Linked DNA regions of Homo sapiens: regions 2, 3 and 4 are each reported to be linked to region 1. The links are microRNA targets in miRTarBase. Many come from high-throughput screens and were not tested one by one. Region 1 holds a microRNA gene; each other region holds the end of a gene's coding sequence.

Evidence for each region. Region 1 holds the annotated microRNA hsa-miR-6760-5p (CAGGGAGAAGGUGGAAGUGCAGA, at 4,926-4,948, opposite strand). A microRNA usually pairs through its seed, bases 2 to 8, with sites in the 3' UTR of a target mRNA and lowers its output. Matches are read on the target gene's strand: a 7mer-m8 pairs with bases 2 to 8, a 7mer-A1 pairs with bases 2 to 7 and ends in A, and an 8mer does both.
Region 2: miRTarBase lists TPM2 as a target of hsa-miR-6760-5p. The part of its 3' UTR that is shown has no 7-base or 8-base seed match.
Region 3: the mRNA of ACTR3B is a reported target of hsa-miR-6760-5p. Seed matches in the 3' UTR shown: 7mer-m8 at 5,980-5,986.
Region 4: the mRNA of GJA5 is a reported target of hsa-miR-6760-5p. Seed matches in the 3' UTR shown: 7mer-m8 at 1,916-1,922 and 8mer at 2,332-2,339.

What each region holds. Positions count from the first base shown.
Region 1 is chr12:111,301,976-111,309,094 of GRCh38, reverse strand. MIR6760 (microRNA 6760) reads right to left here and starts at 4,953; the gene lies at 4,886-4,953. It overlaps CUX2 (cut like homeobox 2), which reads right to left. Exons shown (of 22, transcript NM_015267.4): 10 at 4,781-4,885; 11 at 1,983-2,174; 12 at 1,838-1,896; 13 at 762-810; 14 at 569-668. The region is part of intron 2 of LOC105369983 (a long non-coding RNA gene); the gene reads left to right.
Region 2 is chr9:35,677,044-35,684,162 of GRCh38, reverse strand. TPM2 (tropomyosin 2) reads left to right here. Exons shown (of 9, transcript NM_003289.4): 9 at 922-1,231. The coding sequence ends at 1,004. It overlaps CA9 (carbonic anhydrase 9), which reads right to left. Exons shown (of 11, transcript NM_001216.3): 6 at 6,307-6,373; 7 at 4,821-4,978; 8 at 4,165-4,309; 9 at 4,024-4,050; 10 at 3,329-3,410; 11 at 3,004-3,198. The coding sequence ends at 3,138. Among named protein-coding and RNA genes, the nearest start is that of CA9, 6.7 kb to the right of the region's middle.
Region 3 is chr7:152,853,649-152,860,767 of GRCh38, reverse strand. ACTR3B (actin related protein 3B) reads right to left here. Exons shown (of 12, transcript NM_020445.6): 12 at 5,390-6,310. The coding sequence ends at 6,215. Among named protein-coding and RNA genes, the nearest start is that of ACTR3B, 97 kb to the right of the region's middle.
Region 4 is chr1:147,752,117-147,759,235 of GRCh38, reverse strand. GJA5 (gap junction protein alpha 5) reads left to right here. Exons shown (of 2, transcript NM_181703.4): 2 at 1-3,037. The coding sequence ends at 1,074. All of the region lies in intron 1 of LOC102723321 (a long non-coding RNA gene), which reads right to left. Among named protein-coding and RNA genes, the nearest start is that of GJA5, 4.9 kb to the left of the region's middle. RefSeq lists a silencer at 561-855 and an enhancer at 5,466-7,119.

The DNA.
Region 1 (7,119 bases):
CATCTCTGCTAAAAATATAAAACTTAGCTGGGTGTGGTGGTGCATGCCTGTAATCCCAGCTACTCAGGAGGCCGAGGCAGGTGAATTGCTTGAACCCAGGAGGCGGAGGCTGCAGTGAGCCGAGATCACACCACTGCACTCCAGCCTGGGCGACAGAGAGAGACTCGGTCTCAAAAAAAAAGTCAGCGGGTGGCTGACAGGGTGATCATGTCCGCAGCCTACTGCTCCCCACAGTGGTCGGCTGTGGGGGGTGTAATGACAATGCCCTGCTTGTCCCCCTGTGACCACTTCATGAAAGCCGCTGCAGCTCAAGAAGGCTCAGTGGGGAGTGGAGCTCTTTAGGGGGCCTTGGAAGGGCCCAAACCAGCTGTGTGACCCCAACGATGACGTGGGTGTTTGTGGATGCCCTGCAGGACAGGCATACAGCAGGTGCCAAATCAATGCACACCTGTTGTTCTGTCGTTCTCCTGCCTGCATGGAAGGCAGTGGTCCTTGGGCATGAGAAGGCCAGAGACCCACAGGCAGCCCCCGCCCCAGCCCTCAGCCCCAGAGTATCCTCCTCCCCTACCAGGGCTGGCCAGGAGGCTGGGCTTCTCCAGAAGGAATTTCTGCGTGGGGAAGAAGGCCTCCTTTGCAATAAGCAGTGAGTCTTCAGGCTTGGCCATGCCCTAGGAGACAAGAGGCAGGTTGAGAGGGCACCTGGTGGGCGGAAGGCTCACTGGGGCAGCCTGCCCTGCAGGGATGGTGGCAGGGACACTTACCTGGGGGAGGCTGCAGGTGCTGGAGGCCAGCTTCATGGCTTTCAGGATGCTGCCAGAGCAAGTGGAGAGGGTCTGAGGTCAGCCAGCCCCCGGGCTGGAGGAGAGGTCTTTCAAGAGGCACTGACCCGGCTTACCTCCCTGACAATGACTGCTCCATTCCCCAGAACCCCATTAATTCCAGAGTCATTGCAACCCCAGGCCTGAAGTAGCAGGCTCATTAACAGGTGGCGATGTTACCTGGAGGGGTGCTGCCTGAACTGACCCATTCTGGCCAGCTTGAGTTTAGCTGGTTAATGAATCACCTTCCAGTTACCATGCCTATAATAAGTTCCCTTGTATGGTCTACAGGCAGCTTCTTTTTTTCTTTGAGATGGAGTCTCACTCTGTCACCCAGGCTGGAGTGCAGTGGCACGATCTCTGCCTCCCAGGTTCAAGCGATTCTCCTGCCTCAGCCTCCCAAGTAGCTGGGACTACAGGTGAGCGCCACCACACCTGGCTAATTTCTGTATTTTTAGTAGAGACAGGGTTTTGCCCTTTCGGCCAGGCTGGTTTTGAACTCCTGACCTCAGGTGATCTGCCCGTACAGGCAGCTCTTAATGGAAAAGGACTGAAGATGGTTGAATTTCGTTTTGTTTTTGAGACAGGGTCTCACTGTGTTGTCCAGGCTGGAGTGCAGTGGTGCCACCACAGCTCACTGCAGCCTTGACCTCTCAGGCTCAAGCAATCCTCCCACATCAGCCTCCTGAGTGGCTGGGACTACAGCACGCATCACCACCACTCCTGGCTAATTAAAATTGTTTTTTTCTCACAGAGATGGGGTCTCCCCATTGTTGCCCAGGCTGGTCTCAAACTCCTGACCTCAAGCGATCCTCCTGCCTGGGCCTCCCAAAGTGTTGGGATTACAGGGATGAGCCACTGCACCTGGCCTGAGGATGGTTAAGGTTTGATATCCACAGTGTTAGTGGAGAGAAGAACAAATGGGGTTTAGTAGGAGGGAGGAAGATGATGAACTTTGCCAAGAGCTCCTGGCCAGGGAAGAGCACTGAGGGTCTGTGGAGCCCCACCCCACATGGTACCTCAGCTCCGTTTTAATTTCCTCATAGTCAGACTGGGCCTGGAGCTTCTCTTCCAGCTTCTAGAAGAGCAAAGAAAGATGGTGAGGCTGGTCTGTGTGCTTCTGCATGGGGCCGCCTGCCCGCCTGCCTCCTCCCCAGGACCCACTTCTATGGCCTCGGACTTGGCCGTGAGCTGCCGCTCCAGGTCGGCGATCTGGTTGGCGGATGCCTCCTCCAGCTCCTGCAGTGAGCTCTGGAGGTGCTGCACGTCCTTCAGCAGCCGCAGGATCTCCCTGTCCTTGGAGGCCAGCGCGGCCTCCAGCCGAGGGCCCGAGCACAGAGTGAAGTTCACCTTATCCTGCAGGCAAAGGGGTCTTTGAGGGGCTGAGAGGTGAGGGATGGGGGTCCACAGGTCTGGCCTCCCCACCCCTGAATCCCAAGCAGAATGCAAATTTGTTGATCTGGATGATGGTATGGGGTGTGCTTGTGTTGAAAAATTCAAAGTGTTGTATACTTATGACTTGTACACTTTTCCTTATGTATTAAGTTACACTTTGATTAAAAGATTTATTAAAAAAGAATAGCCATGACAAAAGGAAGGAGTCAGCTGAGGTTGGGGATTGGGTGCTCGCACCAGAGGAAACAGCATAGGTAAAAGTTTGAGTTTCTTTCTCAGGTCTGGCTCCTACTCCAGGGGGATGTCCCCATTCTAGGCAATAAGGGACCCTCAGGATTAGACTTGACACCTTGGAGCCACGGACCACGTTATGGGCGGCTCTTTCCTCCGCCTAATTTGCTGATAGCCCCAAGACCCATGGCTTCTCCACATTTTAGGAAATGGACCCTCTGTCCTGGATGAAGATGGAGAGGTTGCTGTTTGAGGAACCTGAAGTCAGGCTGATGTCAGGCTTAGTTACAAATAAATCTAAGAAACATTAAAAAAAAAAAAAAACCAAACAAACAAAAAGCCCCAACCCAACCCCAGCTTTCTTCCATGGAGATAAATGCCAATTAAAACAGGAAGCGGATGCCATTAATACATTAAATTAATTAGCATCGAGTGCCACTGTTGTGCTCAGAAAAGCACACCCCCCAAACCAGCAAAGTTCCCTGGGGCTGATTAGCACAGGCATTTGCCGGGTTCCACGGGGGTTAATTAAGAACCATTGGCAAATTCCTCTACGAGGCATCCTCATGGGCTCTCACTCTCCATCTCTCTCCACACAGCCTCTCTCTCCTGTGTTCACTCTCTCTGTGTTATGCCGTCACCCAGGAACATGGACACACACAGAATCTCCTGGGACACAGACACAGGCTGACACACAAGGACACACCTATAGCCACAGCACACACTAACACATGCAGTTTCCCAAATATGCTGACACACACACACAAATACACACGCATCAAAGAGAGACACTCACAAGGACACATCATCACACACAACAGACATGCGCGTGCTCAAAGAAGCCACATGCTCTCATGAGCAAAAACACCCCAGACACACCAAAGACACATTAACAATTATAACAGTAGCATCAAGTACTTAGTGAGCATATACAATGACCCAAGCACCATTTTAGGCACTTTACACATAATCCATTTTTTTTTTCAGAGACAGGATCTTGCTGTATTGCCCAGGCTGGACTCAAACTCCTGGGCTCAAGTGATCCTCCTGCCTCAGCCTCCTAAGAGGCTGGGACTACAGGCATGTGCCACCATGCCTGACTCATGTAATCCTTTTAATAACCCTATAAAGTAGATGTTAATTGTACAGATGAGGAAACTGAGGCACAGTCAGGTTAAGAATACAGTCAGTTGCCCAAAGGTCACAAGTAGAGACACACATACACAGTAACACATTCATAGAGACTCATTCCAATATTCAAACAGAAAGAGAGACATAGACACCTGGGCCTGTATATGTGGGTGTCAGGTGAAGTGAAAATTATGCTCGCAAGTTCAGGTTCATGGGTGGAGAGGGAAGTCACCCTGGAGCAGACCTGTTATTATGTAAGGAATCATGAATCTCACCCCTTGGTATGTAGAGATCTGGAAATAAGGCAGACCAATTCACATAATGAACCCAAGGCTCTCTGGGAGAGCCAGGATGGAGACTGCTAATATAGGACAGAAGGGTAGGTTGGGGTGGCCTTGATGAAAGTCTCTTGTCAAGAAATGACACTAGGACCCCAAAGAGGCACAAACCAGGAGGAAAGAGAAAGATGAATTGATTAATCAGGCCTAACACAAGAACCTCAGGGTTGATCACCGAAGACTGGCTCTTCATAGCATGTGGCTGGGGTGGGAAATCCCCCTAGAATCACCTGGCATGCTTTGGAAACCAATGGCTGAGTATGAATGTTAAATTTTATCTTGGTATGTGGCCCCACTGCAGTCCTGGTGATGACTGCCTGTTGATATGTTGGCTGGCTCACACTCCTAAAAGTACCCAGTTTTGGGACTGAAAACCAGCAGGGGCATCACCATCCCAAGCATGCACAAAGCTGCTATGACCGGTGTTCAACAGCGACACCTGGTGGCAGCCACCAAAACTGCATGCTGCTGTATTGCCTCAAACTCCCTCTCCCCCATGTCTTTGCTGGTGCATCTGGAAATCAGAATGATCTTTGGTCTGAGGAAGTTCCTGGCATTCTTGGATAATTGGGGATAAGGGAGGCCTCCAAAGGAAGATACTGGAACTCCTGGTAATAAAGGGTATATGGAAACGTGGGCTTGAAAAGTAAAGAACTGTAGCTGTATTTTTATCCTCAGCTGGTGTAGCAGGTCATAGTGATTATGCTCACCGTATGCACAGAGACCCACACACATTCACACTCCCAGTTTCAAATGGATGCACACAATCAACCACAAAGTGTCACCCACATGCTGAAACCTGCAAACTCAGCCATTCCCGATCTTTCCCTCTGCCCTCCCTGCTCACTTCCCCAACCCCATCCTTACCCCACTGGGCCCCTGGGGAGAGCAGCAAGCCAGGCGGATGGAGCTGTTGACAGAGGCCAGCTGTTCCCGGAGACTTTCCACCTCCCGCTGGGCAGCCTCAGCTCGCTGGGGAGAAGGGGACAGTGTGGGCGAGAGGTGAGCCCACTCTGCACTTCCACCTTCTCCCTGCACTGTTTCAGGCAGGGGTTGGGGAGGCAGACCTCCGAGGGCCTCAGGTCCTGCCTTCCTAGTCCCGGACCCTGTCCTGGAGCTATGAAGACCAGTCACAGAGCCCTGTCTGGGCTGGGGACAAGAAATAGCAGCCTCTGGGGTTACTCCTGAGCTGAGAGGACAGGAAGAAATGCCCCTCTGAGGAGGTTCTGGGTTCTCGTGGGGTGCCTGGGACCCCCAGAGGAGTCAGAACATTCCTGCTCTATGAAGGCAGGATGAGAGAGGCTCTCTGGGTGGGACTGGCAGGTTTTCACACATTTCTAGATACTTCTGTCTGCCACATTAACTTCAGGCCTGGCTAGTCTGAAGGCAAGAGCTGTTCCAACTCTCATGCCACCTGGTATGGAATGAGTCCCAGACACGGCATCTGCAAAGGTGCTTTCCCAGGCCACAGGTTATTGCAGCCCCTGGGCAAGTCACTTCCTCTCCCTGGGTCTCAGTTTCTTTTCTTTTCTTTTTTTTTTTTTTGAGATGGAGTCTCACTCTTGTCACCCAGGCTGGAGTGCAGTGGCACAATCGTGGCTCACTGCAAGCTGCCCCTCCTGGGTTCACGAGATTTTCCTGCCTCAGCCTCCCAAGTAGCTGGGATTACAAGTGCACACCACCACACCCAGCTATTTTTTGTATTTTTAGTAGAGGTGGGGTTTCACCATGTTGGCCAGGCTGGTCTTGAACTCCTGACCTCAGGTGATCCACCCGCTTCAGCCTCCCAAAGTGCTGGGATTACAGGAGTGAGCCATCGTGCCCAGCTCAGTTTCTCTTTTTGAAATGGGGAGCAATGAAAACATCTAACACAAAGAGGTTTTGAGTGGTTAAAATCAGAATGCAGCAGTTCACTAAACTGGGTCTATGGTCGATTTTTTTTTTTTTTTTTTTTTTTTTTCGAGACAGGGTCTCGCTCTGTCACCCAGGCTGGAGTGCAGTGGTGCAATCAGGGCTCACAGCAACCTCCAACTCCCGGGATCAATTGATCCTCCCATCTCAGCCTCCTGAGTAACTGGGATTACAGGTGTGCACTACCATGACGGGTTAATTTTTGTAGTTTTAATAGAGACGGGTTTTGCCATGTTGGCTAGGCTGGTCTTGAACTCCTGGGTTCAAGTAACCCACTTGCCTTGGCTTCCCAAAGTGCTGGGATTACAGGCATGAGCTACTGTGCCCAGCTGGTAGATTTCTTTTTCTTTTCTTTTTTTTTTTTTTTTTTTAAGACAGAGTCTTGCTTTGTTGCCCAGGCTGGAGTGCAGTGGCACAATCTTGGCTCACTGCAACCTCCACCTCCTGGGTTCAAGCAATTCTCCTGCCTCAGCCTCCTGAGTAGCTGGGATTACAGGTGTGTGATGCCAGGTCTGTCTACTTTTTGTATCTTTAGTAGAGACGGGGTTTTTCCATGTTGGCCAGGCTGGTCTCTAACTCCTGGGCTTAAGCAATCCACCCACCTCAGCCTCCCAAAAGTGCTGGGATTACAGGCATGAGCCACCACACCCAGCTGGTAGATCTTAATTCTTAAAAAATTTCTACCTGGAAGGAAGCATTCAAATGTTAATACATTTAATCTTGTGGCTTTGGAGAGAAATCTGGGCTCACATTCTGACTTTGCAACTTTCCGGTTATGCGATCTTAGGCAAGAGGCTTCATCTCCCCAGCCTCGGTTTCCCTATTAATAAAATGGGGATTATAAAGGCAACTATCTCATAGGGTTGTTCTGCAAATGAAGTGGTTTGGCCAAATGCAATTTGGTAGATATCTTTGCTTGGTGCCTGGCACATATAAATGCATCAATAATTGGTTAACTTTGTTAACATCATGAGGGTATATTACTTGAGCCATTACTTAGAGAATTAAAAGAGCTGTGGCTGTATTTTTGCCTTTGGCTGGTAATGCAGGTCATAGTGATTATGTTTAACTACATAATGACCTGGACAATCAGGATGCTATGCCCAATGTATGCATATTGAGACCCATACACATTCATGTTCACATTTGAATTTATTATTTATTTATACGTATCTTGCCTTGTTCCAGAAATGGTTCAAGTCAATTTTGTTTTGGGAAGAGTTTCCTGGTATGTGGGACTGTAAAGGAAATATTTTTATGTTTCTGTACAGTTAGGGAACCCTGAGCATATCTGA
Region 2 (7,119 bases), not on the chromosome of region 1:
CCAATAAACTAGGGTTGGGCCACCTAGGACCCTACCAACTCCCCAACTCTGTGGGCCATGTCTACAATTCAAGTAATTGTAGCTGCCCACGGCGCAACAACTCCAGTGCTTCTCAAACTTCAGCATGCATGAGAATCACTGGGAGAGTTTTAAAAACAGATTCCTTGACTCTGCCCCAAAGAGATTGCTGACTTTGGGCTGGAGGATTTACATTTCTAGCTAGTTCTCTGGTACTGCCAATGCTGCTGGTCCTCATGCCACACTCTGAGTGGCACCCTTATAGACAATTCCGTCCCCGAGTGTAACGCAGTAGAGTTCTAGTGCAGAGACTGGCTTATTAACTAGAGAGCTGTTGGACTGAACATCTAGGTCTGCATGACAGCACTAATAGAAAACACTATTTTAAGCTAGATTTGACAAAAGCAAACATCCAGATATTTGTGAGTCTGTGGCTATTTCTATTGTTAATGATGATGTGGCTAAAGTTGCCTTTCCTTTTTATTCTGTGATAACCCTTTCACTTTCCCACTTCTCTCGCTTCCAGCCTTCTCAGGCAAGCTCCAATTTTACCTCCAGCTTTAGGAGGTTTGCCCTTTCTGGCTCCAGCACCCTCCCTCTCCCCTCTAAGCAAGCACTCCTGCTTGTCGAGAGCATTGTACACACAGCTCCCTGGAGAGGCAGGAGCTGCCATGGGTAGAGCCAATTTGGGGTACAGAGAAGGACAGAAAAGAGATGGGGTAGAGATGGGGAGAAGGAGTTCCTGACAGCTGTCCAGCCTGTTCCCTGGCCTCCCTCTCTCACTCTGTCTTTGTGTACCTCTGATTCTGTTTTTCTTTCCATTGCTCTCTCTCCTTCCTTTCCTCTTTCCCTCCACTCCCTTTCCCACACTCCCACCTGGTCCCCTCCCTGGACCCCCCCCAGATGAAGTCTATGCCCAGAAGATGAAGTACAAGGCCATTAGCGAGGAACTGGACAACGCACTCAATGACATCACCTCCCTCTGAGCCCCACGCCAGCGTGGCCACCTCAGCTCTCTTCTCTCCTCTCCTTTCCATTCTCTCTATGGGGAGGGGAGCAGGCAGGAGGAGCAGAAATTGCCAACATTGCACAGCCAGGCTGGGAGCAGCCTAGGGAGAGCCCCCATCATGCCCACCACCCACTCTGGCACTGGCTTCATCCTTTACCTATCCCCTTCCACCCTCCTTTGCTGCTTAATAAATTCTGAACTTGGTCTCCATGCTGTTTTCCTGCCCTCCAGAGAGCACCTCTATCGCCACCACGGAGCACTGGTTCACTCCTGACACCCTGGCACTTACTGACACCCCCAGCCCCTGCACTGAGCCCACCCACAAAACACCATGGCCCACGCTGAAACCCCTCTGCACAGGCACTCCCTGGCTGTCGCTCTCTGATTCACCACTGCATGTGGGCACGTGTGGCCCCATCAAACCATGACCGCCTCTGGTGCCAATCCCTGACCTCAGAGCACTTAGCTGGGGTTCCAGGATCAAACAGAGTGACTGGAAAGGAAGTAGGGTGGTGAGGTGCAGGACAGGGGCAAGAAGGTTGCAAAAGGTCTGGAATGGAGCTTGGAAAAATGTTGGATATCAGCAACATGGGGCTTTCACTGCAGCAGCAGGTCTGTTTTCTACCTCAAGTCTGTCTGTCTGGCCCTTCCTTTCCTGGCGCAGTCTTTGTCTTACCTTCTGTCTCCAACTTCCTTAAACCTTCTAAAGAAGAGGATAAAGTAGTTTATGACTCAGCCCTCCCCACCCCACCTCTATGACCCCAAGGCCTTGAGTGAGGCATCCACGTCCGTCCTGTTCCCCTCATCCTAGTCAGTCCATCTGTTTGTCCCTGCCAAGGGGCCCTGAGGTCCGTGAATGCATGTGTCTTCCTTGACCCACTCCATGTCTATATGTCACCTTCCCCTGGCCCTGCCTCCCCACGTCTCCCCCTTGTGTCTCCCTTCTCCCTCACCTGCTGCTTCCCCTCACAGAGACCTTGGCCAGTGCCAAGGAGGAGAACGTCGAGATTCACCAGACCTTGGACCAGACCCTGCTGGAACTCAACAACCTGTGAGGGCCAGCCCCACCCCCAGCCAGGCTATGGTTGCCACCCCAACCCAATAAAACTGATGTTACTAGCCTCTCAAGGCCCTTTAATCCTTTCTTTGGTGTTGGCAATGGAGTTTGAGGGACCCCTGAATGAGCAGGGCCTGGGTCCTTGCTCTGCATTGGGACTTCCTTTTCAGGGGAAACTGGGATGGAGGGCCTGGGCTCATTGAGGAGGGGCTGTGAACAGGCTCTGTGAAGCAGGGAGTCTGACAGGACTGGGGGACATCGTGGGCCTTGTGCCCTACAGGCAGAGGAGCTGCCATCCATAGCACCGCCCTGTTCCAGCAGCCAGCTGGGCCAGACAGCACGTCCTGAAGCAAAAACTGCAAGAAGTGACACATTTTCCTTGAGCAGGGTGAAAACCCAAAAGCCTGAGTGTGATGTTAAGCCTAGGGCTGCTGTCTGCCCTACCCCTCAACACATACACTGCACACACACACAAACACACACACACACACAGCCATCCCAACAGTATCAGTCATTTCTGTCCTCTTCCTGATAGCATCTGTGGTAGGCAGAATAATTCCCCTTCTCCAAAGATGTCCATGTTCTAATCCTGTGCATTGTTCTTATCTTACATGGGAAGAAACTTGGTGATTAAGATTTTGAGATGGGATGATTATCCTTGGTTATCTAGTTAGGCCCAGTGTAATCCCAAGGGTTCTTGAGGAGACAAGGAGGTCAAATGTGGAGGTAGGAGTTGTGACAATGGGAGCAAGAGATTGGAGTGATGTGTGGAAGGAGGAACAAGCCCTACTGACATCTGACTGCTGACCTCCGAACTGTAATAGAATAAATGCATTACCACTAAATTCGTGCTAATAACAGTAATAGGAAATTCAAATACCATCCTTCTGATTTGGGGAACAAAGGTGACTAACACATATTTTATTATAAATATTTATTTTAAAAAATTTCTTGGCAGTTAAAAGGAAGTGGCATAATGAGCAGGACAGGACAGTTACCGGCTCCCCCTCAGATGCCTCTGGCTGGCTTCTCACATTCTCCAAGATCCAGCCTCTAGGCTCCAGTCTCGGCTACCTCTGCTGGGCGGTAGCTCACACCCCCTTTGGTTCCCCTTCTGTGTGTACACAACAGGAAAGGCTAATCAGAAAACTGGCCCAGGAGCAGCTCATTTGCATGCGCTTTGCATGAAGTGACTCCACAAGGGTGGGGGAAGCTTGTGCCTGAAGAAAGGGTCAGTGTAATACCTGTGCTGCCTTCTCATCTGCACAAGGAACGCGACGCTGGTGACAGCAAAAAGGAGGCCAAAAACCAGGGCTAGGATGTCACCTGCGATGGAGAGCAGAGAGGGCTGCTTTGGGAAGGAAGAGGGGTCTGCAGAGTTCCTCAACACCTGCCTCAGTGCACTCCACCACCCCTGCCCCGAGTTCTCAGGCAGCCCCTAGTGCCTCAGTCTCCAGAAGAGGCCAGCCAAGGGATGAGGGTGGATACACGAGAAGGGGTAAGATAAGCACCGTTTTTGCTTCCTAAAAGCCAAGTAAAAGGGCCGTTTGGGGCCAGGCACAGTGGCTCATGCCTACAGTCCCAGTGCTTTGAGAAGCTAAGGTGAAAGGATTGCCTGAGCCTAGGAGTTCGAGGCTGCAGTGAGCTATGATCGTGCCACAACACCCCAGCCTGGGCAACAGAGTGAGACCCTATCTTTAAAAAAAGGGGGGGGATTGTTTTGCGAGAGGGATGCTGGGAGATTTCTCAAGCTTCATTCTAATCAATTAGCCTCTGGGGACAATGGGGGAATCCCCACCATGATCTGCCTCTCTAATATTGGGGTTGGGGTCTGTTCTGCAGAAAAGGAGAGGGAGCAGAGGCGGTCCTGAGCAGCCCTGGGGCTGAATGGTGCTGAGGAGTCTCCTGGCATCAGGACCAAGAGGAGGGGCAGACTCACCAGCAGCCAGGCAGGAATTCAGCTGGACTGGAGAGAAAAAGGAGATGTGAGAGGCGGGCTGTGACCACCAATGACAGACACTGGCACACACATGGGAGGATAAGGGACTACTGGCTGGGGGGAAACCAGACAAAGCTGTACCTGGCTCAGCAGCCCGAGGACTGCTGTCCACTCCAGCAGGGAAGGAGGCCTCAATCACTCGCCCATTCAAAGGCTGCGTCGCTCGGAAGTTCAGCTGTAGCCGAGAGTCACCAGGTCCCCACAGGGTGTCAGAGAGGGTGTGGAGCTAGGGAGGTCAGTGGACAGTGTGGGTGGGTTCATGGCATGACAGGAAACAAGGGTCCCAGGCCAGCTCACAACCAGCACCTCAGGGCTCCACCCTCCAGCTCCTGTATTCCCCATCCAGCCTCTTGATTTCTTTTATAAATAAATAAATGTATCCTAAAGATGGTAGGCAGTGGTGGGATCATAGCTCACTGCAGTCTCAAACTCCTGGAATCAAGCGATCTTCCCACCTCAGCCTCCTTGAGTAGCTGGGACTAGGCGCATACCACCATGCCCGGCTATTTTTGGTTTTGTTGGGGTTTTTTTGGTAGAGATGGGGTCACACTATGTTGCCCCGCCTTGTCTTGAACTCCTGGGCTCAAACCATTCTCCCACCTCAGCCTCCCAACGTGGTGGGATTATAGGCGTAAGCCACAGAGCCCAGCCTTGATTTCTTTCTTCTCCTGTTTCTCATCTCATCTTACATCCTCTTTCCCCCGCACCCACTGTGTCCACACACACCCCAGGCCCACCTGCTTAGCACTCAGCATCACTGTCTGGTTAAACACAGTCCAGATGACACCCTGGGCACAGGGCGGTGTAGTCAGAGACCCCTCATATTGGAAGTAGCGGCTGAAGTCAGAGGGCAGGAGTGCAGATATGTCCAGTCCTGGGACCTGAGTCTCTGAGCCTGTGAAGAGGATCTATGTTGGGGTCTCATCTACATTGCACCCCCTTAAAGCTTCAGGGTATAGGGATACAGTTTCACCTCCCAGAAGCCAAGGTAACTCAACTCTGAGACCACTTCTTCGCTAAGTGCAGGCCCTTCCCATAAGACGTAACTCAAAAAAAAGTACAGGGCTTTGGAGCAACTGGAAGAGGCCTGAGGAAGCAAGAGAGGAAGAAAGAAAGGAAGGAGAGAAGGGAAGGTGGGAGGGAAGGGAGGAAGGAAGAGAAGGAAAGAAGAAAGACCGTCTGAGTCTACACTCTTAACTCTGTGTACCATCATAAAGTGCTGGGCCACAAGTTTAAGCCCAGAGCAAATTAAAAAGAAAAAATGAATCCCAGCACTTTGGGAGGCCGAGGCTGGTGGATCACAAGGTCAGGAGTTTGAGAGCAGCCTGGCCAATATGGTGAAACCCTGTCTCTACTAAAGATGTAAAAAAAAAAAAAAAGAAAAGAAAAGAAAAAATGATCTGAATAACTTGTAAATAAATATGAATATTGATAACTATACAAAACAGACACAAGAAATGCAAAGGCAGAGTTCTACCTAGTCTAGCAGAAACCTAAAAGGTCTAGTAGAGTAAGTGAGATTTAAAATGACCCAAGAGTGACTAAGAAGAGAACGATTTCCAACAAAAGTATTTACAAAGTTAAAATATTTGATGCTTATTAAAGATAAACAGTTCTCAGAAAAAGTTTAGCTCTCCAGACTTGACCTTGACAATTCCAAACACCATTTTTTGGTCTTGTTTTTTTTGTCTCATTTTGGTTTTTGCTTGGTTTTCTTTTTTTTTTTTTTTTTTGAGACAAGAGTCTCGCTCTGTTGCCCAGGCTGGAGTGCAGTGGCACGATCTCGGCTCACTGCAACTTCTGCCTCCCGGGTTCATGCCATTCTCCTGCCTCAGCCTCCCGAGTAGCTGGGATTACAGGCACCCGCCACCACGCCTGGCTATTTTTTCGTATTTTTAGTAGAGATGGGGTTTCACCATGTTGGCCAGGATGGTCTTGATCTCTTGACCTCGTGATCCACCTGCCTTGGCCTCCCAAAGTGCTGGGATTACAGGCGTGAGCCACCGTGCCCGGCGGTTTTTGCTTGGTTTTCAATCTGTAGGCAGCCGTTTGCGGGTAACTGTGTCTGTCAGCTTCATGGTTATTATCAAGATGAGCGCTGGCTCATGCTTCAATCCCTCCTGCACTGGAGGGAGCCCATCTCCAGCCTCAGACCTGAAGCTCCAAAGGGTGATTCTTTATGAACTAGGCCACAGAGATTAGTGGCCAGACCAACAAACTGACCTTCCTCAGCGATTTCTTCCAAGCGAGACAGCAACTGCTCATAGGCACTGTTTTCTTCCGGGCCCTCCTGGGGGATGACATTGTAAGACAGATGAGTGCATGTATCCAGGGCCATGGCTGAAGGCCGGAACATGAAGGGGGGTTCCCATAGACCTCTCCCATTCCTCAGCTCTGAGAATGCTGAGGGAACATAAAATTGTAATGGTTGTTGCTTTTTGTTGTTGCTGTTGTTTTTTTTTTTAGAGACAGTGTCTCCCTCTTAAAATCCTATGTATTATTTCAAACTCTATGTACTCTTGCTGTGCGAACCAACAAGCTTGGTGGACTGGTTTTCAATGACAAGCTGGAGAGAGAGGGAGAGAGCCCACTTTACTTAGGATACTAGGCTCTCAGTGACCCGTGCCCTTCTGACGTTTGCAGTCTCACTCACTGCTGCCTCCGTACATACTCCCCACAGGAAACCATATATACACCTTTGTGTTGGTGTCACCTCTGCATTCACCTTCATGATTCTGTGTTTGGCTTTTCAGGTGAGGTCCTGACATGCCACTTCTTTTATTTATTATTCTTTTTTCTTATTTTGCTTATGAACCTAATGTTAAGAACATTATGAACCTAAGAGTATGAACATATTGACATGCTATGATGGAGGCATTTCTCTGAACTTTGTGCTGTGTGGCTGGCATTAAAGAATCAGTGAGTGTGGCTGGGCACGGTGGCTCACACTTGTAATCAGCACTTTGGTAGGCTGAGTCAGGCGGATCACTTGAGGCCAGGAGTTTGAGACCAGCCTGACCAACATGGTGAAACCCT
Region 3 (7,119 bases), not on the chromosome of region 1:
GTGACAGATACTTTTAAAAGAAACATTATGAAATATTATTCAATTAAGTAAAGAATTATTTAATAGATAAATATTCTTAATGGGCCTCTCTTGTGGTTTTCAATAAGCTTTGCACTTGATTAACCCCACAAGCCTGTCTGGCACAATCGTAATTTCTACAAATGAGATATAAAGGAGGGATCATAAAGAACGAATTAATCACCGAACGATCTGCACTTCAGTCACACGAGAGCTCATTATTCATATGAGTAAAGCTGTGGAATGAGCTACGACTGCCATAAAACACAGGCACATCTTCAAGGATTCTGCAGGGTGATTGCTCCACCGGCCTCTGGCTGGCGGCACAGCAGACGCAGGCAGGCGGCAGCCTTAGACAAGCTTGATCCTCTACTCTTCAGGTTCCCAAAACCCTCCTGAAGTCCATGCCCAAGAGTTAGATTTTATGATACCATTAAACTCTTAAGGTAACGATAGCTACATCCTGGGTGCTCACCGTCCTACAGTTATCCAGACACACAATGTGTCTCAGCACCAGAGCACACGCAGCCCAGGAAAACCAGTGATGCCTTCTTCTTGTCGGATAGGAGCTTAGTTAAGTGTCTACGGGGCACCTACCAGACCTTGTGAAGGCCTCGGGGGTTCCCAAGATAAGCACCATACGGCCCCCATGTTCCAGGACGTCAGTCCAGCGAGGGACACAGGTGTCATTGGTGCATTGGTAAAGGAGGGGCTGTCTTCTACACACAGAGGGGCAGCAGCAGAGGAGGGTGAACATCCCGGACAGGCAAGAGCACTCCAGGGAAGGGAACAAACACCTCCAGGGGGGCCACTCAGGGCACCTTCCACCATACTGCCCCCAAGTGGCAAGGCTATGGAACATGCACAGCCCAAAACAGAGACATCCTCATGTGGCTCAGATGGGATGACTTGGTCTGGAGCCTAGTGGGGAGACAGCTGCCATGCAGGCAACCCAGGGCTCCAAGTGGCTTCCTTTTCCTTAGATGGACGATAAAAGTGATTCAATCATATCAGCTACAGTGGTAAGAAAAGCCCCGTGAGTCTGCATTCTACAACTACATACTAGTATCTTTTTTCTAACCCTTTCTTAATGGAATTCCTAAAGGCAATACAGTTCATGAATCTAAAATTCCCTTTTCCTATGCTGAAAATTTTTTAAACACAATTTTGATAAGTAGAGCTCTTAAGACACAGCAACTGCTTTGTAACAGAATAATAATAATGGCTAGAATTTATTGAACACTTACTAGGGGCTAATTATGGTTCTAAGCACTCAGATTAACAACCATCTTGTATTTGCCTTGTAACATAAAGCCAGTGCACCTGATAAGACATGTATTAACAAAGCGCTGTGAACAAAAATGAAAATAATTTTACATCTAAACATCCCGCATCAGTAGCTTCCTGGAACACGTTACATACCAAGGGATCTGGATTCGAGGGGGATTTCCAGCTCCCCATGGCCATTTCCAAACTCTTTCTACTCTACTATCTGATGAAGTCATGCTGCAGATTCCTATCACTGGGTTTTACCACCCGGTCTCTCACCAGTTGCTATGACCTACTTCTACAAGACTGGAGAAAATAGATTCAATATGACTTCTCGGTGTCCTGGCTGTGTGGTTTTGGCATGTTGTTGAATTTCTTTCAGCCACAGGTTTCCTGTCTGGAAAATGGGAGTAGCAATACCAACTTCATAGGGTTCGGTTCAGGTGAAAGGAGGCTACACAGCATCACTCCCAACGTGGGGTGACTCTCGGCGCAGTGCCCAGCTCACGGTCAATGCTCAGCTCCTTGCCACCCCCGAGACTGAGGCACGACTTCAGGCAGCTGGACCAGTCTTACTTTCATCTCCACCCCCACAGCGTCCTGCGTGAGCCAGCACCCACCAGACAACCTATCCAATGCCCTTCTCTCAAAATTCCCTACATTCTTCCATTTCCAGTGAATTTAAACTCTACACAATCACCACTTCCATGACCCTGTTATCACTGAGAGGTGCTCCACCTCTGAAATCTTAATCAGTATCGTTCTTCAGGACCACAACCTCCTAACCTTGAAGCCCAGGGCCGCCAGTCCTCAGACGCCTCCATTCCTCCCAATCTCTCATCTCCCTCTGCTCCCACCCTACCTGGAGTCCGTGGTCCCTCATGTTAGCAGCAGAGAAACCCCGTCTACACCTGCCTGCCCCCAGGACACCTGCCCCACCCATCATCACATTTGCCTGGCAAAACCCAAACCCCAACCCCTAAGAAAGCCTCGCCTTCTTCCCTCCTCAATTTAGGCTACATGGAAATGGAAACTCAATCAGAGAGAGTCCCCCACCCACCTGCAGTTGGTCAACGCAAGCACCAGGTGCCTTCTGCGTTTACCCTTCCTCCCTCTGTAAGCGATGCGGTCACCTCCCCCGTCCTCAGCAGCCCTGATTGGCTCCTCTTCTACAGACCCCACTTCAGGAGTCTTTTCTCTCATTTTTTCCCCAACCCTCACCATATGCAGAAACAAACTCATAAGCTTCATGTTACTTAGTCTAATCTTGGCTTAAAAGTTCACGAAACAGAAGTTAAACCCTCAGGAACAGCTGATGAATATCCGCAAAGAAGTGAGAGGCTGTTTCCTCAGGTGTGTTGGAAAGAGCAACTCTGAGCCAGCGGTCATATCATCTTAGAAAGGTAATGTTTGTTAAATATTCACATACTAGTTGCCAGATTTTTTTTTTAAGTTAAGGCCGTTCGTATCATATTCTCACCATCGTAAAGCTGAGTTTATGTCTAAATCTGTTGAATAGGGCAAAGCAACTTCCTGCACTTTTTAAGAAGGTCTCACTCTGTTGCCCAGGCTGGAGTGTGTGGCATGACCCTGGCTCCTGCAGCCTTGAGCTCCCGGGCTCAATGGATTCTACCACCTCCACCTACCCAGTAGCTGAGACTACAGGTACTCACCACCACACCTGGCTCCTGCACTATTAAAAGGTTTAATAGTCCTAAAGACTGTAGACTTATAATTTTAGAATTTAACGAGTGTATTTGATGAAATATTTTTTACAGAAAACTGCTCACCTGGAGTTGTAGTTTTGTCATAGGAGGTCGATTTTACCCATCAACTCTAGGAATACTTAACTCATTTCTATATTATGATCTAACTCATTCAACCTGAACAAAAGGTATGTGCAGATTTTATCAAATTTACTAACTGTAAACATTTTTCTTCCTTATAAAATGACGGGTGCACATGACCATCACAGTTCATTTCTATCTATAGTATCTGCCAGGCTCACTGAATAAACAAAAAATGATAACTCACCTCTATTAACAGGAAAAGGACCATTACAATTCTCCCACAGATGAGCAAACAGAAAATAGGATCTCATTTGCTTGAGGAACAGCCAGAATTGGTATTCAGATCTTTTTGAGTCAAAAACCCTTCCTTCTGCTCATAAGCCTTTCAGATCCAGCTACGCTGGCATTGCCTAAGGAGTTTAAAAACAAAAAGCAAAAATTGGATGCCTTCCCTGGGGCTCCTATTCTGATTCTCTTAATTTGGGATGGGTCTTGCCCAGGGTTGAGAACCACAGCATCATACCTGTCACATTGTAATGGATCATTCTGTCCTGTCAATGTAGGTTTAAAACAAAATGTTCTCGGCCTGGCACGGTGGCTCACGCCTGTAATCCCAGCACTTTGGTAGGCCAAGGCGGGCAGATCACCCGAGGTGGGGAGTTTGAGACCAGCCTGACCAACATGGAGAAACTTCATCTCTACTAAAAATACAAAATTAGCCGGGCATGGTGGTGCACGCCTGTAATCCCAGCTACTTAGGAGGCTGAGGCAGGAGAATCGCTTGAACCCGGGAGGCAGAGGTTGTGGTGAGCCAAGATTGCGCCATTGCACTCCAGCCTGGGGGACAAGAGCAAAACTCCATCTTAAAAAAAAAATTTAAAAAAAAAATATATATATATATATTCTCCCACAGTTCTTTAAGTTGACAAACAGAAGTACAATCTCAAAGCTAATCTTGTACCAAAGAAGGCACAGGGAAGCTTTGGGTATCCTGTGGTGGAAGGACAGCTCATACAGCTCTAGCTTAGCCAGGCTGCCACAGCACTGACATACAGAGTGGTGTTATTCCCAGGGTTTGGAGAAGGCGCAACAAAGCACCTGCCAACGCACAGATGCAGAGCAGAGGTGGGAATGACGGTGCCCACTGTGAGATGTGCAAAGCATGCTGAATCGGGCGGGGCAGGGTGGAGATGGGAGTATCAGGTAGGTCCCTGAATAGCACAGAACTAAGAGGAAAATGGCGTTAGAAGGAACGGCTCTCGCTGCCACGTTCAGGGTGCAAAGGTGTGACTGAAGGCAGGCAGACCAACCGGGAACTTGATGCAATAAAATGGCTGGAAGATCATGAGAAGCCAACGGTACAGCAATCCCGAGAAGCAGCAAATCCCCCAAGGGAATGCAGAGAAACACTACGGATGAGGGGAGAACCAGGTGGTACCAGACTCTTGACTGGGGAGACTGAGGGCCTAGCACAGTGACAGTATCAGAGATTCGGTCAACTGAGGTTGGTAAACTCAGATTTCACCATACTGAGTTCAATATTAAACTTATTTCTAAACTCAAATAATAACATAACTTTTTTTTTCTTGTTTTTGTTTTATTTAAGACATGGAGTCTCACTCTGTCACCCAGGCTGCAATACAGTGGCTCAATCCTAGCTTACTGCAGCCTTGACCTCCTGGACTCAAGTGATCCTCCTGCCTCAGCCTTCTGAGGAGCTGGGACTTCAGGCGCACACCACTGCACCTGGCTACGTTTCTTTATGAAGGCAAATTTTCTGAGAACAAAACATATTTCATTCACCTCCTTTGAGAGTGAAACTAAGGAAAAAATTTTAAAACAGAACAAAAAAAAAACATACTTCACAACTTAGAAGAAATACCATAAATAACAATTTTTAAAGTAACATAATTATAAGAATAATATGAAGAGTGAAATCAACCTAAATCTATTAATTGAGCAAATTACCTTTCAAGCTAGCAGTCCATTCAGCAAACATCAGAGTAGTTACTGAAAGCTTACAGTCATGAATCCTGAACTTCTAGGAAGGAACATCAGAAATCATTAGGCACTCCTTCCCACTATACCCCAGATTCAAAAACCATCTCTGACGGGTTATCCAGACCCACGATACCCCCAGCGATGGAGTGGTCACTGCGGGGCAGGCAGCCCACACCATTCGCGAAAAGACATTTCCTCCCACAAGCTGAGTATTAATCAAATTCTCCAATGATGTAAAACAATGTCAATATTCTTTAAAGGAGGCACAGCGACAGGGAGAAAACCAACAGACCACCACACTACAGCAGAAAGATATTTACAAATATTCTAACAGCTTTTATTACAATGGTGCAAGGAAGTATTTCATCCAACACTCACCGACAACAAACCATCATCTTCTATAAAACAGCTCCAGAAAGTTCAAACAAAAAAAACTAAAAGATACATGTATCTGTAGTAATTCTCATACATTACTGTTTAGTGTTCAAACTTCATGTCACTCCAATAAAGTATAATCATTTTCTAGCAAACATGTGGCAAAAAAGTTTGCTGTTTTATTTGTTTGCCTATAAACATATCAGAACATGCCTCACAATTAAAAACTTTGGATTACAGCACTCCATAACATCAATATCTATTCGTGCTTAGTATCAGCCAGTTGTACCAAATACCATAAAATACAAAATGATAGGAAATATAAACATCGATTTGTATTTCAAGTTTAAACATTTTATTTACAAAAATAGGCTGGGAGGAAAAGGGTTTGCGCCCCCACATTCTCTCCTGGGACCTAACGATTTTGCGCCATTTTCTAATGTTGTTTTCTCTAACAATTTTCAAAGTCACATTTGGATTCCTTCAGAATTGTATTTGTCAGCTAGCAGCTCGGAGGAGGAGGAGGAGGGAGAGCGAGGGTGAGGAGGGCGGGAGAAGGAGGAGGCTGGCAGACAGCGGTCGGCACACGGATAAATGGCTTTTACTGAAGGGCCCGCGCCGCGCCTCATGCACCGGCAATGCAAGCACGCTGCTGGGCAGCAACACCGACGTCGCTATTTACAGAACGGCGGCCTTCTCTGGGTTCTGAAGGACACTTGTTCCCCAACGTGACACCATCGAACGACGCGTTCAGGCAGACACTAGGACATGACTCCAAAGACGGGGTTGTGGCGGCAGATGCTGGGCCCGTACTCTTCATAGTCCTTCTTGGTGTGGCAGACCTGAAAGAACTCGGGCTACGAGAGGCAACAGGCAGACAGAAAGACACTCATTTCAGAAGAAAGTCAAGGGAACCAGCTACCAAGCAGGCAAGACACTCTCCTCATCCCGGCCTCCACCCTCCCTCCCAGGACCGCTGCTGCAAGATTTTACCTCTCTGATGTACTAAACTACTAAATGGGGAGTTATTTCACTTTTTAGAAATTTCATCAGCCTGTATCTTCTTAGGACCAACCAAATGCCGGTCCCCCACTAACAATGTGTGAGCTATTCACAAATGTGAGGGGGAAAAGTAATAATTATTTGGAAAAGTCACTGGAATTAATGATTAATGCAGGACTTTTTTAGATTATTTTTGGATGCCACTTACCATGTTTTCTGTAACCCCTAATTAGCAAGGACACGTGATAAATGTGTTGTGTGATTATTAAGATATAGTTTATATCGGGCCGGGCACAGAGGCTCACACCTGTAATTGCAGCACTTTGCGAGGCCAAGGCAGGGGGGTGGATCACCTGAGGTCAGGAGTTTGAGACCAGCCTGGCCAACACAGCAAAACCCCATCTTTACTAAAAATACAACAAAAAAAAATGAGCCGGGCATGGTGGTGAACGCCTGTAGTCCCAGCTACTCAGGAGGCTGAGGCTGGAGAATTGCTTAAACCCGGGAGGCGGAGGTTGCAGTGAGCTGAGATCGCACCATTAAACTCCAGCCTGGGCGACAGAGTGAGACTCCATCTCGAAAAAACAAAAAAGATATAATTTATATCTTACAGAATGGTCTGTTTAGAGCCACACGATTAGGGCACACACTATTTCACCTTCGT
Region 4 (7,119 bases), not on the chromosome of region 1:
GGCGATTGGAGCTTCCTGGGAAATTTCCTGGAGGAAGTACACAAGCACTCGACCGTGGTAGGCAAGGTCTGGCTCACTGTCCTCTTCATATTCCGTATGCTCGTGCTGGGCACAGCTGCTGAGTCTTCCTGGGGGGATGAGCAGGCTGATTTCCGGTGTGATACGATTCAGCCTGGCTGCCAGAATGTCTGCTACGACCAGGCTTTCCCCATCTCCCACATTCGCTACTGGGTGCTGCAGATCATCTTCGTCTCCACGCCCTCTCTGGTGTACATGGGCCACGCCATGCACACTGTGCGCATGCAGGAGAAGCGCAAGCTACGGGAGGCCGAGAGGGCCAAAGAGGTCCGGGGCTCTGGCTCTTACGAGTACCCGGTGGCAGAGAAGGCAGAACTGTCCTGCTGGGAGGAAGGGAATGGAAGGATTGCCCTCCAGGGCACTCTGCTCAACACCTATGTGTGCAGCATCCTGATCCGCACCACCATGGAGGTGGGCTTCATTGTGGGCCAGTACTTCATCTACGGAATCTTCCTGACCACCCTGCATGTCTGCCGCAGGAGTCCCTGTCCCCACCCGGTCAACTGTTACGTATCCCGGCCCACAGAGAAGAATGTCTTCATTGTCTTTATGCTGGCTGTGGCTGCACTGTCCCTCCTCCTTAGCCTGGCTGAACTCTACCACCTGGGCTGGAAGAAGATCAGACAGCGATTTGTCAAACCGCGGCAGCACATGGCTAAGTGCCAGCTTTCTGGCCCCTCTGTGGGCATAGTCCAGAGCTGCACACCACCCCCCGACTTTAATCAGTGCCTGGAGAATGGCCCTGGGGGAAAATTCTTCAATCCCTTCAGCAATAATATGGCCTCCCAACAAAACACAGACAACCTGGTCACCGAGCAAGTACGAGGTCAGGAGCAGACTCCTGGGGAAGGTTTCATCCAGGTTCGTTATGGCCAGAAGCCTGAGGTGCCCAATGGAGTCTCACCAGGTCACCGCCTTCCCCATGGCTATCATAGTGACAAGCGACGTCTTAGTAAGGCCAGCAGCAAGGCAAGGTCAGATGACCTATCAGTGTGACCCTCCTTTATGGGAGGATCAGGACCAGGTGGGAACAAAGGAGGCTCAGAGAGGAAAGACGTGTCCCTTCTGAACTGATGCTTTCTCACTGTCATCACTGCTTGGCTCCTTTGAGCCCCGGGTCTCAATGACGTTGCTCATTAATTCTAGAAACTATAACCAGGGCTCTGGGATAGTAAGAGAGGTGACAACCCACCCAGACTGCAGTTCCCTCCCCACCCTCTACCCAGTATACGAAGCCTTTCAGATTACTCATGAAACAGGGTAGAGGGAAAGAAGGGAAGCATGGCAAAAGCTGGCCTGGAAGGGATAGCCAGAGGGATAGAATGACTCTCTCTCTACATACCAGCAGCATACCAAATGCGTTCTCTAAGTTCCTACCTCCTTGACCTGATCACCCTCCCTCCTCCAAGGAAGAGCTCAAAGTTCCCAGCCAATAGACAGCATGAATCAAGGAACTTGCATTATATGTGCTCTTGAATCTGTTGTCTCCATGGACCATTCCTCGGAGTAGTGGTGAGATGGCCTTGGGTTGCCCTTGGCTTCTCCTCCCTCTACTCAGCCTTAAAAAGGGCTTCTTGGAACTTTACCAGCAGCCTCAGCTTTACAAATGCCTTGGTATGTACCTCTGGCAAATGCCCTGGTATGTACCTCTGGCAAATGCCCCACCTTGGTGATGTTGCAACCTTTCCTTCTGCTAGGGTGTACACCTAGCCTGTGCAGGTGTCAGCCCTGCTAGGGAGTCACTGTACACACAAACTCTACTGGAATTCCTGCCAACATCTGTCACCCTGCAGCTCCTTTACAGTTCAATCCAATGATAGAAACCATCCCTTCCCTTTCTCCCTTGGCTGTTCACCCAGCCATTCCCTGAAGGCCTTACCAACAGGAATATCCAAGAAGCTGTTGTCCTCTCTCGAACCCTGACCAGATCATCAGCCACTGAGGCCAGTGGAATTTCCCCAGGCCTTGTTAAAACAAAGAAAGCATTGTACTTCTCAGATTCCCCTTGTGGAAAAAAAAATTCTGCTGTGAAGATGAAAATAAAAATGGAGAGAAAACACTGGAAAACTATTTTCCCCTCCTATTTACTTCCTTTGCTGACTGCCAACTTAGTGCCAAGAGGAGGTGTGATGACAGCTATGGAGGCCCCCAGATCTCTCTCTCCTGGAGGCTTTAGCAGGGGCAAGGAAATAGTAGGGGAATCTCCAGCTCTCTTGGCAGGGCCTTTATTTAAAGAGCGCAGAGATTCCTATGTCTCCCTAGTGCCCCTAATGAGACTGCCAAGTGGGGGCTGTAGAAAAGCCTTGCCTTCCCCAGGGATTGGCCTGGTCTCTGTATTCACTGGATCCATAATGGGTTGCTGTTGTTTTGGATGAAGGTAAACGATGCTTGGAATTGGAAACTGAGACTTATAGAGGGATTATTACATTATTAAAATGCACGTGTGTGTGTGTGTGGGTGCTGATGGGATGGGTAAAGGCTTGGGGAGTCCTGAAATAAGGAAAGGAAACCACAGAGAAACTTGTGTCTTCCTGCTCTCCTCTCCGGCTGCCTGGCAGTTATTAACCTAAACAGATAGCCACAAGAGGTTGGGACAGAGGAGGGTAAAGGCTCAGAAGGAGGTTCAACCTCTGACTCACCTGCCCATCTCTGGGCCCTCTGCTGACACTTGGATGCTATTGTTGGGTGGAAAGATAAATGAGAGTGGAGAGGTGGAGGAAAGTGACTAGGATGCCATTTAGGAAGGAATGTCTGATCATCCCGGGTCCCTGGAGGGGACACCTTTTAATCTATTGCCTAGCATTAATATTTTCTCTCCTTCTATCTCTGAAATGTTTTATGAAATGAGTGTTCTTGAATTAGAAATTCTGTGGGATCAATCTTTGATGGTGAGGGTTTTAGAAAGGAAAAATATAGTAAAATGTGTAATTTGTCTTAATAAAATCTATCTCTACATCTATCTCTCTTTTGTTGTCCACTTCATACTGTGACTACAAGAGAAGGATGGCAGACTTGGTGGGGAGGGGAGCGCTTGGACTATACCCATCAGTAAGCCAGTAATGCAAAGAGCTTTGAAGTCAGGCATGCAATGGTTAAAATTCCAGTTGTTAACTTACATCTGGACTCCAGCAAGACAATCTCTGAGCCTTGGTTTCTTCATCTGTAAACTGGGCCCCATTAATATCTACCTCATGGGGCTGTTAACTGAGCTGTTAAGTACCTCATAGGGCTGTTAACTGAGTTGACTGTAAAGAGTTTAGCAGAGTGCTTGGGAAATAACAGTCATTACATGGTAATTGTTGTTATTATCTGATTATTTTTGTTATTGTTTTGAATACACAGTATTTGAAAATGGGATGTTGAGGGATGATTCCAGAACTTCCCTTTATCAAGCCCACAATCTGCCTAATGTGATCAGAGTAACTCACATTATTCTATTCTAACAATTAGAACAGAATTAAACACGAATTCATTTATCATCAATTCTAGGAACCATAGGCTCCAGGAGGTGATACATAAAAAATAAAACAAAACAGAACAAAACAAAAAACTAACAAACTACACAGAGAAGAGGGGAGACCTGACCTGGACCTAAAAATGAGAAGGCTTTAAAGAAGTATAGACCCCAAGGATGAGTCTGTGAAATAGGTGTTTGTATCACCATTTTACAGATACGTAAACTGACGCCCAGGAGAGCTCCCTGAGAGTGGGGCTGCTTCTCACTGGCTCGCTATTGATATTTCATCTATTTGGAAGAAGAGAAATAACTGTTGCTCCAAACAAAGGGTCAAGGGACCGGCCACTTAGCCTTTCACCAACAAATGGGTGTCATTTCTGAGAGAAGATTAGGAAAGACAAACAGAAGTGTAATCTTAACTACCAATCAGTCTTGTTTATCAGGGCAGGAAAGCTTTTTAAAAAAGGTCTTGCAAAGAGATCATAGAACGCATATTATGACACCAATATGGAGACTTAGGAGTACACCTGGCCTCTGTCTGAGGATAAGGTGCTCCACCCAGAGATACCGCAGTAGTCTAACCAGAGAAAGCACTTGGAACCCATTTTTTTCTCCTAGAAAAAAAAAAAAACAGTCCATCTCACATGTTTATAAACATAGTCATTAACATTTAACAGTTCATTATATGCTGGACTACAAAAAGTAACTTATAGTAAGATTTCAACCTCATGTATGTCTACTCTCATTTTCTTTCTTTCTCCCTCCCTTCTAAAGCTTCATCACTAAAGAGCATAAGCTGGTTGGTAATAGAGTGAACACACTCAAGTTGCAGGCCTCTTTAGGCCCATTTCCTTAAATTGCTTCCTCCAGTGCCAGATAAGACCAGAATGTTTCATTCCAATGGCTCAAGTGTTTAAGTGGTTAAATGCTAATAATACTCCTATGTAAAATCATAGTATGAATGGGTTTCAGATTTTTTCCTAATAGCAAATTGCGATACCAGAGAGAAAAACAAAAGAACAAGGACGGTAGGCACCTTGCAGGCATCTTGAAGGATTGCTGTCATGATGTGGAAATCAGGAAAACAGCGAGGCTGGAGGGAGCTGCCCACGTCCCAATCCTCAGGAAGTTCTGGAAGCCCCTGCAGTTGGTCCTTGATAATAAACAGATTTTTTAAAATCCTAGATTTTTAAGTAGAATATGATTAAGGATTTTCCCTTTCACTGGTCACTTGATGATCATCAGAGATAGGTAGAGTCTATAGTTTTTTACTGTTTCAAGTGGAAAATATTGTCACTCAACAAAGAATTATTGACCAGCTATTTTCAGGTAGGCATTATGTTAGGCTTTAGGAGTATAATTTTAGAGACCAGACATGATTTCTGCCTTTTGGATCTTAGAGTTTGGTGGGGAAGGCACTCTAACACAAATAAACAAATAAAATAATTTTTTTGTGTGTATGTGTGACAGGGCCTCACTGTGTTGCCCAGGCTGGAGTGCAGCGGCGCGATCTTGGCTCACTGCAAACGCCGCCTCCTTGGTTCGAGTGATTCTTGTGCCTTAGCCTCCTGAGTAGCTGGGATTACAGGCATGCAACACCATTTTTAGTAGAGATGGAGTTTTGCCATGTTGGCAAGGCCGGTCTCGAACTCCTGGCCTCAGGTGATACACTTGCCTCAGCCTCCCAAAGTGCTAGGATTACAGGTGTGATTCACCACACCCAGGGCTAAAGAAAATAAATTGTGACAAGTGTCATGAAGGGAACAAGGGGTTAGCAAAGGTGGGCTGAGAGATTCTAGTATTCAGATAGGGTAGCGGAAAGTCTTTTCTGAGGAGGTAACATTGAAGCTGAGATGTGAAAGTTTAGAAGCCAGGCACTGATGCGCAGGGGAGGAACCCAGGTGGGTGAATCTAAATTCCTTCCAGAAAATTCCAGAATACAGCTGTCCCTTATCTCAGTTTAGTCCAACATTTTTGAAAGACAGAATTCAAGCAGTAACTAAAACAGCATGGTTTGGCGCCAACTGTAGCAAAACACACATACCTCTTTCTGCAAAAAATTCAAAGGACAGTAATCTTTTTACTCAAGGAAGCAGAAGGGGCATATGTAAAAGATCTGAATTAAAACAAGAAAATATATGTTAAGTTCTAAAAGCCCTATTTTTTTTTCATGATCAGGAAGACTGTCAGAATCCACCAGTATCAATTCTGATAACACACTTTGGGCCTTCTAAACTAGGCCTATTCTGTGGGGTAGGGCTGGAGAGGGGAGGCAGGGGTGCTCGGGGACAGAAAGGAGTACAGTCCAGGCTTGTTGGAAGAAGACTATATCCAAAGGGGCTGGGAAAGAGCCAGCAGGGCATGGCCCAGAGTAGCCTTAGCATCAGGGAAGTCAAAGCAGCAAAACATCAAGTACACAGAGAGGTGGGGAATGGGGAGGGTGGAGGAGCACATAGCAGGGAAGCCAAGCCGTGGAAGTTGTGTAAGACACCAGACAGGCAGGCAGGCACTGCTGGGGACATGTCTCAGCTGGCAGTAGGGCCCCAGACCCTGATCTGGATTTGGAGCTGGACTTCCAGACTCAGGGAAGGGAGTCTGACATGGGCAGAGCGGAACTTCACCCTAGTAGCTGGGTTACTAAGCAAGGCACTAGGACAGAGTCTTGGATAGAGTACAAGCAGGCTCTTGTACTCTTGTGGGGCCCATTATCAGAATTACAGAGCTGCAGATGAATAAACTGAGTCAAGCTCTTCATGGCAATATATATGATGTTTATAGATACAGTACCTTCAAAGCCTTAAACCAAAGGAATGACAACCATGAGACTTCTAAGCACCTCATCAAGCCGGCGGGTGGGGAGATGATTTGGGGGTTGGAGGCTAATGCTTTTCTTTATCTATCTCCACCTTCAGCTAAGGGCAGCACAGCCCCGGGGGAGGCCATCGCTTGGCAGCAAGACTCAAGCCCCCTCAGTCCCTTCAACCTGACAGAATTTTCCATTACCCTGATTCAAGGCCCTTATGGGACTGCGTGCATGTACTTGCTAACAAAGGGTTTCTCAGAGAAAGTGAGAACTAAGCAGGAACCTTTCAGGAGTGTTCATCGCCCTGGGCTCTGCAGCCTGGCCAAGGCTAAATCCCCTCCAGCAGCAGCTGCTGTTCAGCTAACGGGGCAGGATAGAAAGTTATTTTATACCTTCTTGGGACTTGTCTTTAAATGTGATAAAATATAACCTGGAGGGGATTACATTTACAAAGGTTTGAGGTAAAATTCCACATTTGAAACCATTGTAAAAGCTTGTGCAGGGTGTAGTTGGCTGGGGAAAAGTCAATTTAAAAACCCTCACATATTTTAATAGTAATAATGAAATACACCTTCAATTATTAAGTGCTTGCTGTTTTCTAGGCATTGTGCTAAGAGATTTTATGAATTGCTATTTCATCCTTACAGTAATCCTTCAAGGTTATTTGACCCCATTTTACAGATAAGGAAACAGACTTAGATTCAGTAACTTGCACAGCTACTAGGCAGTAGGATTGGGATTTAAACCTGCCTTATACTTCTCTTAAGTGCTCATCACATAT